Homo sapiens: one gene and its partners. The protein of the gene in region 1 purifies or fractionates together with the protein of each later gene. This does not show direct contact. Each region holds a gene or a part of one and is shown in the gene's direction. Other genes may lie near its edges.

Region 1 (3,783 bases):
ATGGTCTACAATTTATCTCTAAAGGTGTACTAATATTTGTGTTAATTACTTTTAGGGATGATATGTGGTCTATTTCTATGTGCGTGTGTGTGTGTGTGCATGCGTGCATGTGTGCATGTAGTTTCCACCTTATGTGAATTTTTATTCATAAGAACTAGAAAAATACGTCATCCAGATCATCTGAAAGATCACCTCAGAATAAAGGCATCAGCAACTCTTGAATGTTTTTTGATGAGGATTTAGTGATTGAAATAATGAAAGTTTTATTGTAAATGGTTTCCCATTATTAGTCTGTTGGATAGGATACAGAAGACTATATTATAGAAATGGTCTGATATTATCATTGTTTTCTAAAATCTATTAATAGTTTGTTGAATAAATGTGTGAGTGTCTGAGGCAATGATAGGAAAACAGTCTAGCTGCATCACTGGAGGTCAAATCCTGTCTCCCCTACTTCCTTGCTGTGTGATATTGGGCAATTTACTTAACTTCTCTATGCCTCAGTTTCTTCTCCTTAAATTGGAGTTAATAGTAGTAGCTATCTTTTAGGATTGTTGTAAAAATGAGCTAATGCTCACAAAAGCACCTAGACTAGTACCTGCAAGATTATGATAAACTTTAAAAGCCAAGATCCAAATTTTGGAATGACTTCCTATTTTCAATAACATGAAATATGTATGAATATTTAGTAGAAGATAAAGGCACTCTAAGCTGACATTTTGTACAAAATCTATTATGCATTGTGAACAGTGTTTTGTGGAAATGTAAGTCAGGAAAATGAAATATAGGTGACTGAATACAGGACTAAGTGCCTTGAGAATAAGACATGGACCTTTCTGGTATTTTAATCATTCCTAGACTCTAAGTCATGCGCTTTCAATGTACCAGTGTTCTCTGAAATTTTAACTTTGGGTCTAGAGACAGTTATATCTTCTCAAATGCCTAACCCAATAAGCTGGAAATGGTTCTTCATTCTTTTTCATTACTCAGTAGAATTAAGAATAAGGGGCATAGTCTTGAATGCCATTCTGTGGGAATGAAGTGATTGAATTAACAGAAATTTTGTTGGAAGTTGACCCCAATTATTAGAGAGACCGATGACCAGGATGCAAAGAATCATGCTATAGCAATGATCTGATGAATTACTAAATGAATACTAAGTATTTCTCTAATTTGTATTAGCTAGCGAGGAATCCTTTCTTCATATCTCATAGCTGTATTGAAACATCATGTCAAATGCAAGAGAAAATGTGAAAAAATCCTCTTAAAATGCTTTTTCCAAATATGATTATTTCACAAACCATAGTGTTGCAATTTCTCACTTTTAATTCAGATGTATACATTTCTGTATGTACCTAATGTACACAGTCTCCTATGTCTCCCTTCTACTTGGATATAAGGTAAACAATTATAGATTAAGCATATTAGTGTATGGTTGCCAAGGAAACATTTATTTTTTTTGTCTCACAGCTGAAATTCACAGTAATTGCTAATATATGAGCTAACAGCGTATTCTGTAATTTCTTTCTAAATTGTATTTATTTTTATGTATTCTATAATTTCTGACATAGAAAATCACTAAATTGCTAGAAGCATTTACTAACGAACACATTATTATTGAGTTTTCACAGCTTGCTTATAGCCTTTCTGAAAATGACTCCCAGAGCTATTTGTCCACCAAGATTATTTGTCCAAGCCTCAGTCTTTCACTCAGCCCTAAGTCATGGGCCTGATGGCTCATGGCCCCCATGGCAGAGCTAGAACTTACTCTCTTCCCATCTGTCTTCTTTCTGAGTCTTATATTTTATGTGGCTGAATCCCCTGGCTACATCACTCCCTTCTCACTTAGGCATGACCTTAGGCGAGCTACTTGGCCTCAGACCTCAGTTTCCCCATCTGTGAAATGGGAGGCATTAAACCATGTCCTCTGCAAGGCCTCTGGCTTTGATTGCATCCTGAGCCCTATGAGCCCATCCTTCTGCTGCTATGACTTGCTCATAGACTTCCCTAACTTCTGCCTCCTGCTTTCCCCTGCCTCCAGTACTCTATGTCATTCCTTGCTGCCTGGGCTGCCAGCCAGTTTGCTCCCACCCACCTCACCTCCTTCATTCACTCTCCTCTTGCCCATCCCTTCGTGGGAGTCAAGCCGTCTCCTGGCCCATTGTTCCCCAATCCCACACCCTCACCCAGGACTTCTTCCTTGCTATTCTTTAGGCCCAGAATAGCTGCCTACTCTGTGTCTGTCAAGCATCCCACTGCAGCACTCACCAAAATAGACAGTGTGAGATCCAGGCGTGGAAACTTGGGTCTCTTGCCACCCTGTACACCTTTCAATTTCTGTTAAAAAGTAGATGCAATTTGCAACATTCATATGTTAATATGAACATTTTGTGACTCACAATCATAGTTTTACCAACTTACATATATATATTATTTATATGGAGAACTTTAGTGGTCTTTTTCTGCTTATTGAAGTAGTTTGTGCTCATTAAAAAAATCAAGAAGCTAGAAAAATGTATGAAGAGGAAAATAAGGTTGTCTACAATCTCATCTCTTAGTGATGACTGTTGTTAATGTTCAAGGGTTGGATATGCACTTAATGATTCTTCTGAGGGTAATATGAGCCTGCAGAAGGCTGCATTTGGGGTAGGTGGTAGGTTAAATAAATGTAAGAAATTTGACTATCTCAGGGCACTTCAGAAGTCAGAATCAAGAGGTTGGCAAGAATCTTTGTTAGTACTTTTTGGTTTGATATTTAACTTAGATTGGAATTTTATTTTTGGGGTAGGGGGAGGTTGCTATGAGGGTGAAATCTAGAAATAATCAAAGGTAATGTTGGTATTATAAAGTCTGTGTATAGCTTCCCACATTAAATGGAAGGTAGTTTTGCTCCTAGGAGTATACTGGGTATAGATTTTATGTGGATTATTTTCTGTTTAGATTCCACAAATAATTTTTATCTCACATAATTTAAATGTAACTTGAAATAGGTGTCCTTTAAAAATAGTTCTTAGCTAAATTTCACTGAATTATATAATTTATATATTTTTATAATATACATGTATTGTACATTCTATTTTTAAAATACAAGGTAAACTGTATTAATATGCTATTTATCTACATTCTGTGCTTCAGGAAGAATACATTGCATTTGCTTTTTGTTATCATATTATTCTATATAATTATGCAATATGTATGTTATTATTAAATACATAAATTGATTGGATCAGATCACTAAGGACAGATGGCAGAAGTGCTTCATTCTTTGAATTCAATTTTGCCATCTTTCAAACTTATTTTCCAGTTTATAGATGAAGAATCAAGTCTAAAGTGTTTCACAAAAATATTAGGAACAGTTCAGCCCTTAAAATACAATGCATTGTTTCTTCTGCTCAGACTGGAAGAGAGTTACTTGTTCTGATGATGTGTCACATAAATCAATCCCTGGTATTTTGGGAAACAGACCTTAGTGTTTATTGCCGTGGACATGGTCCTCACTTGACAGAATTTTAATTGCTGTGTATTCTTCATTTTTGTAATCACCAGGTTCTCTTATTCAAGTACCTTCCGTTGAGAGGGGGAAACTTAGTAAAGTTCGCCTGGGTTCGTTGTCTTTGAAAAAGGAAGGAGAGAGACAATGCTTCTTATTTACAAAACACTTTTTAATATGTACAAGAAGTTCAGGAGGGAAGCTTCATCTGCTCAAGGTACTGGTTTTCCATAACTGTTCCATTTATCTTCCAAGCACTTACAAGTTATTGAAGTTAACTCATTTGAGACTTT
Region 2 (3,451 bases), on another chromosome or scaffold:
TCCTTCCTTTCTTTTTTCCTTTTTTTTTTTTTTTTTGACAGAGACTCACTCTGTTGCCCAGGGTGGAGTGCAGTGGCACGATCTCATCTCACTACAACCTCCGCCTCCTGGGTTCGAGCAATTCTCGTGCCTCAGCCTTTCAAGTAGCTGAGATTACAGGTGAGCGCCACCATGCCCGGCTGATTTTTGTATTTTTGGTGGAGGTGGGGTTTCACCATGTTGGCCAGGATGGTCTCAAACTCCTGGCCTCAAGTGATCCATCCGCCTTGGCCCCCCGAAGTGCTGGGTTTGCAGGTGTGAGCCACCACGCCCAGCCCCTGGAAATTCATTTCTTATCTTTCCTATATATATCCATACATTCTAACCTTGTTTTTGAAATTATACATGAATTCAGAACATTTGATATCATCTTTCATCTTAATTGCTCATTTGTTCCTTAATGAAAATAATAGTATTTTTCAGTTAAGTTGTCAGAAAACATGAAGGCTTCATCCTTTAAAAAACTACAGAAGGTGAGTCAAACTTATGATACTTGGGATCCTTGGTTTTATAAGGGAACGACCTATCTTAGGAAAGTCCTACTTGGAGCACTTGAGACTTTCCCAACATATCACTAGTAAAGCTCTTAAATTGAAATGTTCCATGCTATAAATATTGAACACACTAATCTTTAAAAGTGATTTATTTGATACAGCCTTTAGAAAGTAAAAATTACAACTTTTGCTCATATTACCAAAATCTGTAAACTGCTAGAGTAAGAGTTTTTTGTTTATGTAAAACTCTCTTATTGAAAAGCTTTCATGACCAAACATTCTAGGTAGAATCTTAATTTGTAAAACTTACGTTATTTGAGAGGCGGTAGGTACTAAGTGATTTCACAAGAACTTCAATAACATGATATATGCTATGAAGGAAAAATACAGGTTGCCATGAGAAGCTTTGTAGTGCCACCAGCTTTTTAAGTCTGTAGTGTTTCCTGAAAAAGTGAGCTTGAAGCTGAGGCCTGATTGTTGACTAACAGTGATTTCCACACCTGGTTGCATGTCAGAGTTATCTTGGGGAGCTTTTAAGAAGATGTATCTCTAGTTTCCACTTCTGGAAATTTGACCTAGGAGCTCTTAAGTAGCGTCCAGGATTCAATTTTAAAAAGGAAAAGCACTTGGATAATTTTGATGTAGTTAGTCAAACACTTGAGAGCTGCTGAGCTAGTCAAAGAGGAAGAGGAAAGTGCATTCCAAGTAGAGAAAACAGTATGTGCAGTCTCTGAGAGCAGGCAACTGAAAGGATACAAAAAGGCAGACATATAGGTTAGGAATGAAACATTTAGGAGAGGTGGGGAAAGTTGTGAATTAAGACCAGAGAGGTAGGAGGGGGCTTGATTAACTTAAGCCTTCAGGTGACAGGAAAGAGTTTAGACCTTAGTTTCAATTGTGTTTTATTTTTGAATAATGGGATAACACAGTTAAATGAATGCTTCAAAAGAATACTGGGAAGATAAAAAGGCACCTTGGGAAGCGGTCAATATTGTGTGAGAGGGGCCAGATAGGAGGCTATAATAGTAGTTCTAAAAGAGATGGTATTTTGGACTCGGTAGTGACAGTGGAAATGGAAAAAATGGATTTATGAAAGATACAGGAAGTAGAATCAATAGGACTTGGTAATTGACTAGCTATTGAAATTGAAGAAGTAAAAAAATCACCATCTTTCAGATGTCTGACATCAACATCTTTGTGGGTGATGGTACCAATTAATGAAATGGGCAACAATGCAGAGGAGGGGGATTGGGGGAAGATAATGAGTTGGGTTTTGGACATAGTGAGGTTGAGGTACTTGTGAGACAGTCATGGTCAGTTTAAAGGAAGAGTCTAGACTGGAAATAGAATTGGGAATTTGTTAAGTATACAGACAGTACATGAAACATTGTAGGAAGAAAGAATGAAAGGAAAAGAGCACCTATGAAGAGTTTTGGGGCACCTCCTAAAACTAAAGGTCTGGTAGTGGAAACTCAGAAGTAATTGCCAGTTAAAAAAAAAAAGGCAAACCACAAGCCTGTCATAAAAGTGGTATCACAAAAATTGAAAGAGTGTTTCCAGGAGGGACTGCTCAGCTATGGCAAAAGGCTGCAAAGTGTTCATTGGAAGACAGCCACATAGACATCAGGGAGTCATGGAGCCAGTGCATTGGTGGGCCCGGGAGCCAGAATGGATTAGGAAATGAGAGGGAGACAATAGCTTGTTGTCAGCATATGGCTACTAGTTGTAGAAACCTTGGCAAGTACTCAGGGGATTGACTGCTTCTGGCGTGCCTGGAGCTGTTGAGCCCAGAAAGAAACAATGCTGAAAAGGGATTCTCATCTTGTGACCTGAAAAAAAAATGCTGGTAATAGCCACTTAAATTCATCAGAATCCCTTAAATCACTTAAATTTCTCAGAATTATTTATTTGGGGGCTTATTGTTTAGTTTTTTGGGTTTTTGCTTTTTAATTACAGATACTAACTTGAGTACATTCTACCTCTCCCGGTTTCCATACCCCCTGCTATGTTGAGATTCAGCCCTCCTTACCCAGCCTGCGTTATTGTGAAGTTTGTAGACCAGTGCTCTCCACTTGAACTTTTTGTAGTGATGGGAATCCCTGCCCAGTAAAGTAGCTCTTAGCCACATGTAGCTATTGAGCACGTGAAGTGTGGCTCATGTGACTCAGGAACTGAATTTTTAAACATTAATTAATGTAAATATAAGCCACCTGTGGCTGGTGGCTGCCATATTGAACAATGTAGATCTAGACAATATTTTTGAGATGATGGGCTGTGAAGGGAAGATGAGTAATAAGGTGATATCTAGAGAGGGATTCAGAGATCTTATTATAAGTCATATATTACAGTTTTGAAATCCTCGTGTGTTTTATGTAGAAGAACTATGATACAATATGCTCTTTACATCTCATTATTTGAGAAATGTCCTCTTTAACCCCAATTATAGGATGGGTATAGTTTCTGTATATCCTTCATTACTTTGTGTGTTCAGAAGATACCCTTTTGATCCTTTATTAAAGACTTGAAACAACTAGTATGCGAATGCTTTATTTTGAATTTTAATGCTGTGTTTTTTAATAGTTTTATTTTTCTTACGGCAGTTCTGTTGAGTGGAAATGTTAAATAATCTATTTCTAAAGAGAAATGATATTGAATTGGTCTTGATTTTTTAATATGCATGTAATGCTTATTGTGTGCCAAAGTACAAGTGCCTTATATACATCACTTTTTTGATCATCACACAAACATGTGAGATAGATACTCTATTCTCTACATTTTACAGATAAGGAAACTAAGGTAAACTAACACAGGAATAGAAAACCAAACACCACATGTTCTCACTCGTAAGTGAGAGTTGAACAGTGAGAACACATGGACACAGGGAGGGAAACATCACATACCTGGGCCTGTCGGGGGAT
Region 3 (3,713 bases), on another chromosome or scaffold:
GCTGTTGTCATGATGTTTATTATCAAAGACTTGCTGTGGCAGAGTATTTCTTGTGGAGTGATATTCTCTTTCATCATGTAAAGTTCATTCACTGCATTTCCCCATCTGATACATTTTTGACAGCAGAAATTTTTGTGCTTTAAAATGTGACAAAAATAGAATTGCCGTACTTCAGTTATGGCCGTTTCAGAATGAATCTTGCCTTCCAGATTCAGTGCAGTTTCTTTTATGTTTTGCTTCTGAAACTACATTTATGTTCTTTGCATAACTAGAAGATTCAAAACTATCCTTTTTATATATTTTTTTCCTAATGATTTCATAAGGAGACCTAACGGAAAACTAGTAGCAGAGGTGAAAATCGAAAATGTCAGGTTATTCCCACCTAGATCAAACCAGTGCCCCCATGGGATTCCCTTTCAAAAGCTATCTGGTCAAAATGGAACTATTTCAGAGACCCAAAGGAGCTAGTGTAGTTTAGGGAGATTTTGTAGCCTGGAGCAAGCCGATGAACTCTTGGCTTTTTAACTTATATATGTAAATCTCAATCTCCATGTGTGTGTGTTTCTGCGTGTGTATGCAAGCTATTTTAAGTGTCTGCTCTTTCTCCTTTTGAACTTACTGCTTACCTAGGAACCCTACAGCACTCGCCCGTGGGACCCGCCGGGCCTGCATCAATTGAGCGAGTTCAAGGTACCCATTGTATCTGTGGGTTTCCTTTTGCTTGTGGTGTTCAGGGTGGGACGTTGAGAGGAAAAGAGCTGCGTGGCAGTCATCCTCGCGTTCAGAACCCAAAAGGGTAGTGTTTTTGGGTTTTTGTTTTTTTAATTTTTTCCTGTTGAGGCCACAAGCCTAAGATTGACCTCTTCACACAGGGCAGAGAACATGGATGATATGGGCATCTGTCCGAGGCTGTACTCCCTCCCTACTGGTGTCAGGAGGCTTGGATGGAATAGCAGTCTGTAAGGAGACAGCGGGTTCTTGCAGAGCCATGGCAGTGTTCACATATGCCAAGACTCTACCTCTGTTTTGTGACTCTGGTCCTTGAACTAAGATTGATTAGAAGGAAAACCAGGAGCATAAGTTTCTCCAGGTCGCAGTGCTAGTCCTTGGCAGGTTGCTCCCCAGTTTGCTCTTTATATAATTCCATCCATACCTCTGACATGGCACAGATTCTGCCTACACCCTGCTTCTGTTCTTGAGCTGCAAGAGGATTCTGCTGTGGTGAGGTTTCACCCACTCTAAGGTGTCTGAATTATGTTGTCAGTGGTATATAGAGTCATTTCTTGTTTGCTTATGTGTCTTTCACAGCAGTAACTCCCCGTTTGTTTCCCTGTCAGTGCCGATGCAAGACCCCAGAGCAGCTATGCAGCGGGGATCCTTGCCTGCGAATGTCCCAACCCCTCGAGGCTTGTTAGGAGATGCTCCGAATGATCCACGGGGAGGCACTTTACTTTCTGTAACTGGAGAGGTAGAGCCTAGGTAAGCACTAACATAGAAGGAAACAGTTGAAGAAATCAGAATTGTCCCTTCTTCCCTGAGAACAAAATCTTTCTGTACCAGTTGTACCTGTTTGCCTACTTCAAAAGGTAGATCAATATTCATGGCCACTGTCCAAGGGTAAGCACTTCTCCTAAGGCAGAACTATGTACTTGAGTATGTCATTTTGAGCTATTATATTTTTAGAAATTGGAAATTTTAGTATACATACTTGAACAGGGAAATTTATAGTAGTGGAAATATTAATAATAGCAATAATAGGCCGGGTGCAGTGGCTGACGCCTATAATCCCAGTACTTTGGGAGGCCAAGGTGGGTGGATCACTTGAGGTCAGGAGTTCGAGACCTGCCTGGCCTACATGGTGAAATCCCATCTCTACTAAAAATAGAAAAATTAGCCGGGCGTGGTGGCGGGCGCCTATAATTACAGCTACTGGGGAGGCTGAGGCAGGAGAATCGCTTGAACCCAGGAGGTGGAGGTTGCAGTGAGCCGAGGTCATGCCACTGCACTCCAGCCTGGGCAACAAGAGTGAAACTCCATTTCAAAAGTAAATAAATAAATAAAATAATGATAGTAATAATAATTGACATTAATGGGGATCATGCCTCTGACTCTGCTCTGAGTACTTTACTTAGATCATCTTATTAAATCCACAAGATCCTGTGAGATGGATACCATTATTAGTCCCATTTTACACGTGAAACTGATGTGTGGAAAAGTTAAATAATGTGTCCAATATCACACAGCTAATAAGTGATAGAGCCTAGATTTGAACCCATACAGTCTGAATCCAGAGCTCATGTTCTTATGCATTGTTCTGCAAACTCATACATATAATGAATATTCGTTGATTCCTCCCTAATTATGAACCAAATAACGAAATTCTAGAATACATGGATTTATATCTCTGTAGCTTTTCTTCCATCTATTTGGTGTTATTTTCTTGTTAGTATTCATAGACTACATCAGCTCTTTGTTGGATGTTTACTTACTGATCTGGTTGGTACTTTGTTGTTGTTTTGTTCTATTTTAAAATACAACGTTTTTCTCCATCTCCAGAGGTTACTTGGGACCACCTCATCAGGGTCCACCCATGCACCATGTCCCTGGCCATGAGAGCCGAGGACCACCCCCACATGAACTGAGGGGAGGGCCATTACCCGAGCCCAGACCTCTAATGGCAGAACCAAGAGGACCCATGCTAGATCAGAGGGGTCCACCCTTGGATGGCAGAGGTAAGGGGAGATCACATTGCAAATGCCATAATGAACTCAACTGTCTTAGGCTCTAATCTGGGATAAAGAATGCTGGAACAGTAGGTTTGCAAGCATCTTTAAGGTTTATCCACAAATCTGAGAAACTGGGGAGGAGACAATAGTCTCATATGTTAATAGCTGAGGGGACAAATGTGACTAGAAGAGATTTCTATCTTTCTTGGATTGTTCATCATTCTTGCAGTACATGCAAGTAGCTACATAATGGTTTTGTTACATTTTTCTTTATAGGTGGAAGGGATCCCCGAGGAATAGATGCACGAGGGATGGAGGCCCGAGCCATGGAGGCAAGAGGGTTAGATGCCAGAGGATTAGAGGCCCGTGCAATGGAGGCCCGTGCGATGGAAGCTCGTGCAATGGAGGCCCGAGCGATGGAGGCCCGTGCAATGGAAGTCCGAGGGATGGAGGCCAGAGGCATGGATACCAGAGGCCCAGTGCCTGGCCCCAGAGGACCTATACCTAGTGGAATGCAGGGTCCCAGTCCAATTAACATGGGGGCGGTTGTCCCCCAGGGATCCAGACAGGTATGTGTAACACTGACTTCTGGCATCCAAGTGAAATCTTGATCTATTCAGGAATTGATTATTGAGCCTAATTATTACTGCCTTCTGACTTGGGCTGTTTCTTAGCTTGTTAGAAAGGGAAGACTTGGATCTCCCTGTAGCTTCTCTGTCCCTTAGGGTGGTGATTTTCTGGCTATCAGGATTGTAGTTCAAAAAAAAACAACCTTATCCCACAATAAATAGCTATTCATTTGGAGCAGAGCCCCTGAAAATTTAGGGGTTAGAAAGTAGTCTTGATTGGGGTACAAACCAACATCATGTACACGGTTTTTTCCAAGATATACTTGCCCGGATCTCATCCGAGGTATAACTCAGAATCTCTTATTAGTAGGATCTGAGCATGGATAGTTTGAAAAACTTCCCCCAAATGATTCTAATG
Region 4 (3,713 bases), on another chromosome or scaffold:
TAATCCCAGCACTTTGGGAGGCCGAGGCGGGTGGATCACCTGAGGTCAGGAGTTCAAGGCCAGCCTAGCCAATATGGTAAAACCCTGTTTCTACTAAAAATACAAAAAATTAGCTGGGTATGGTGGCATGCACCTGTAATCCCAGCTACTTAGGAGGCTGAGGCAGGAGAATTGCTTGAACCCAAGAGGCGGAGGTTGTAGTGAGCTGAGATCGTGCCATTGCACTCCAGCTTGGGCAACAAGAGCAAAACTCGATCTCAAAAAAAAAAAAAAGAATTTTCAAGCACAAAAGATATGATGTGCCAGGTGCAGTGGCTCACACCTGTAATCCCAACACTTTGGGAGGCCAGGAGTTCACTTGAGTCCAGGAGTTCAAGGCCAACCTGGGCAACATGGCAAAACCCCATCTCTACTAAAAATATAAAAATTAGCTGGGCGTGGTGGCACATGCCTGTAGTCCCAGCTACTCGAGAGGCTGAGGCAGGAGAATCACTTGAGCCCAGGAGGTCAAGGCTGCAGTGAGCTGTGATTGTACCACTGCACTCCAGCCTGGACAACAGAGTGAGTCCCTGTCTCAAAAAAAAAAACAAAAAGAAAAAACGATGTTAGATTAAAAATGGGTGGCAGAGAGGGAAGTGGAACGGAAATACAAGTTCAAAGAGAAAAACAGGACATGTATAATTTTCTGCTGTTGAAACAGCTTTTTCTTGCATTTTTCAAATGGTCTCAAATTATTACAGTATTTAGATTCCATCAGCTACACATTTACGTTGCTGGAAATTGTATCCTTTGCAACTGTTTAAGCTTGGGAGAATTTTTAGGTGGCAACTTAGAGATGAGTGAGACAAGTATATAATGTTACTAGATCTTCTCTCTTCTCTTCTTTTTCTTTTGACAGAGTCTCTGTCTGTCACCAGGCTGGAGTGTAGTGGTGCAATCTCCACTCCCTGCAACCTGCACCTCCCAGGTTCAATGAGTCTCCTGTTTCAGCCTCCCGAGTAGCTGGGACTACAGGCATGTGCCATCACACCCAGCTAATTTTTGTATTTTTAGTAGAGACAGGGTTTCACCATGTTGGCCAGGATGGTCTCGATCTCTTGATCTCGTGATCCGCCCCCGCCTCGGCTTCCCAAAGTGCTGGGATTACAGGCATCAGCCACTGCACCTGGCCATCAACTTCTTTGTTTTTAAATTTAATAGAGATGGATCTTGCTGTGTTGCCTAGGCTCATCTCCATCTCCTGGGCTCAACAGTCCTCTTGCTTCAGCCTCCCAAAGTTTTGGGATTACAGGCGTGAGCCCTGAGCCTGGCTCTAAATCATTTTAAGGGATAAAAAAGCCTGCAGGGGCCAGGCACAGTGACTCACGCCTGTAATCCCAGCACTTTGGGAGGCTGAGGCAGGTGGATCACCTGAGGTCAGGAGCTCAAGACCAGCCTGGCCAACACGGTGAAACCCCGTCTCTACTAAAAATACAAAAAAATTAGCCAGGCGTGGTGGCAGGCACCTGTAATCCCTGCTATTTGGGAAGCTGAGGCAGGAGAATCGCTTTAACTTGGGAGGCAGAGGTTTCAGTGAGCCAAGATCATGCTATTGCATTCCAGTCTGGGCAACAAGAGTGAAACTCCGTCTCAAAAAACAAACAAACAAACAGGCATGCAGGCTGTTTACTGGCCAAGCAGTCTTGGTGAAAGCTGCCCAGCCTCTGTGGGTTCAGGGCTTCTCCTTTTACAAATGAACTCCAGAAAAGTAGGGGGCTCCCTTCCTCACACCATACACAAAAATTAACTCAAAAAGTAAAAGTTAAAATGATCAAACCCCTAGAAGAAAACATAGGAATAAATGTGCATTATCTTGGCTTAGGCAATGTCTTTTTTTTTTTTTTTTTAATTGTGACAGAGCCTTGCTCTGTCTAGGTTGGAGTGCAGTGGCATGATGTCGGCTCACTGCAACCCCTGCCTCCTGGGCTCAAGTGATTCTCAGTGCCTCAGCCTCCCGAGTAGTTGGGATTACTGGCGTGTGCCACCACGCCCAGCTAATTTTTGTATTTTTAGTAGAGACGGGGTTTCACCATGTTGGCCAGGCTGATCTTGAACTCCTGAACTCAAGTGATCCACCTGACTCAGCCTCCCAAAGTGCTGAGATTACAGGCGTGAGCCACTACACCTGGTCTGAAACCACTTTAAAAGGGTTAATTTTATGGTATGTGAATTGTGTCTCAATAAAGTCATTTAAAAGGGTGGGGGTTGCCCTTAAGTATGGGGAATGATCAAAGGTATCAAAGTAAGGTGGCAAAATGTTGACAGCTGCTGGACCGCAGGACATGGGTACATCATGGGGGTTCCTTATACTATTCTGGTTTTGTATGTGTTTGAAAACTTACAGAATAAAAAAAGCTTTGCTTTTTGAATTGAGCTCCAGGGTTCTGGGGTCTTCTCTTCCTCCTTTACCTGCAGTGGGAGTGGAGGTAGCTCTTCCCCTAGACACAGAGCCCTACTCTGACCTGCCCTCTGATCGGTCGATCTGAGACATAATCACAGCTGCTAGATCCAGTCGCTAGTGGACTGGCAGGCAGCGATTGGGTCAAGCCTTAGCTAAGTGTCAAGCCTTAGCTAAGTGCCCAGCCTTGAGCCAATCACTGGGCTGGTCCACGCCTTGGCCTCAGTCAGAGCTTACAGATATGAGAGGGGAAGGGAAGGTGGAGTGGATTCATCAACAATAGTGGCCCCCTTGGTGTCTTTTTTTTTCCCCTCCATTAAATGGCACAGCCACCACCCTAGCTAATCTGAAGTAGTGGCTAGAATTTGAACTCTGGTCTCTCACCCTCTTACCTCCAAACAAAGAGTTTTGTTGTTAAAGGTGCTATTTTCACATATAAATGAGTCTAGGTGAGTCTGGAAGGAGGACTTCCTGGAGGAGGCCTGGCGACCACATGCCCTCCCTCTCTTCCACCTCACCCCCCTTCTCCGCCTCCGCTTTCCCATCAAGGGGGGCAGATCAGCTCTGAGGGCTGCAGAGGTCTTCCCTGTGCTGCCTGCCTCCGGTAACCACAGTCCTGCCACTGTCCCTTCCTCCCTAGGATGACGCGGCATGGCAAGAACTGCACCGCAGGGGCCGTCTACACCTACCACGAGAAGAAGAAGGACACAGGTGCAGGGCTGGGGTGGGAAGAGGCGGGACATGGCTGTGTCTTGGAGTCACCCTCTCCCCTCGTGCCCCAGGTTTTGCTTCCTCTGTCCCTGTCTCTCTCCCGCCCCCGATATACACTGATGGCCATGACCATGTAAACAACAGCTGGGTGATCCCATGACCCCATGTGGCCCGGCACTGTGTTCTCTGCCTTCTGCGCATGAACTCACTCCTCCCAACAGAGTGTCAGGGAGGGTGCTCTTGTTACCCCATGTTCCAGAGGAAGAAACTGAGGCCCAAAGAGGGACAGGCACTTGAGCTTGGTCACAGTCAGAAGGGTGGAGGGGAGTCAGCCGTCAGCCCCTCCACCAAGCTGCCACTCAGTGACCAGGCCTGTCTGCCTCTCACCCTCCAGGGTTGACAACTCCCTGTGGGTTCAGCCCGTGGCCCCAGCACACAGGCAGCGGCTCCCAACTGCCTGTTTCTCTCTGAGTCCCCCACCCCCACCACCGCGTTGTCTCTGTGCCTCTCTCTGGGGCTTTGGAGACGGACATGTCTCCTGTTGCTCCGCCCCTCCATCACTCTG

Evidence for each region.
Region 2: the proteins of RASGRF2 (region 1) and GAR1 purify together in Homo sapiens (affinity purification with mass spectrometry, with the first as the bait; one large-scale study listed by BioGRID). This does not show direct contact.
Region 3: the proteins of RASGRF2 (region 1) and CSTF2 purify together in Homo sapiens (affinity purification with mass spectrometry; one large-scale study listed by BioGRID and IntAct). This does not show direct contact.
Region 4: the proteins of RASGRF2 (region 1) and NOSIP purify together in Homo sapiens (affinity purification with mass spectrometry; one large-scale study listed by BioGRID and IntAct). This does not show direct contact.

What each region holds. Positions count from the first base shown.
Region 1 is NC_000005.10:81,089,255-81,093,037, forward strand, and holds part of RASGRF2 (ras-specific guanine nucleotide-releasing factor 2), read left to right. Parts: intron 1-3,546; coding exon 3,547-3,707; intron 3,708-3,783.
Region 2 is NC_000004.12:109,818,549-109,821,999, forward strand, and holds part of GAR1 (H/ACA ribonucleoprotein complex subunit 1), read left to right. Parts: intron 1-452; coding exon 453-512; intron 513-3,451. UniProt on the Homo sapiens protein: Required for ribosome biogenesis and telomere maintenance. Part of the H/ACA small nucleolar ribonucleoprotein (H/ACA snoRNP) complex, which catalyzes pseudouridylation of rRNA.
Region 3 is NC_000023.11:100,830,178-100,833,890, forward strand, and holds part of CSTF2 (cleavage stimulation factor subunit 2), read left to right. Parts: intron 1-630; coding exon of another isoform or gene 631-690; intron 691-872; coding exon of another isoform or gene 873-1,045; exon of another isoform or gene 1,046-1,331; intron 1,332-1,337; coding exon 1,338-1,479; intron 1,480-2,556; coding exon 2,557-2,732; intron 2,733-3,002; coding exon 3,003-3,295; intron 3,296-3,713. UniProt on the Homo sapiens protein: One of the multiple factors required for polyadenylation and 3'-end cleavage of mammalian pre-mRNAs. This subunit is directly involved in the binding to pre-mRNAs.
Region 4 is NC_000019.10:49,560,057-49,563,769, reverse strand, and holds part of NOSIP (nitric oxide synthase-interacting protein), read left to right. Parts: intron 1-3,077; coding exon of another isoform or gene 3,078-3,078; coding exon 3,079-3,148; intron 3,149-3,713. UniProt on the Homo sapiens protein: E3 ubiquitin-protein ligase that is essential for proper development of the forebrain, the eye, and the face. Catalyzes monoubiquitination of serine/threonine-protein phosphatase 2A (PP2A) catalytic subunit PPP2CA/PPP2CB.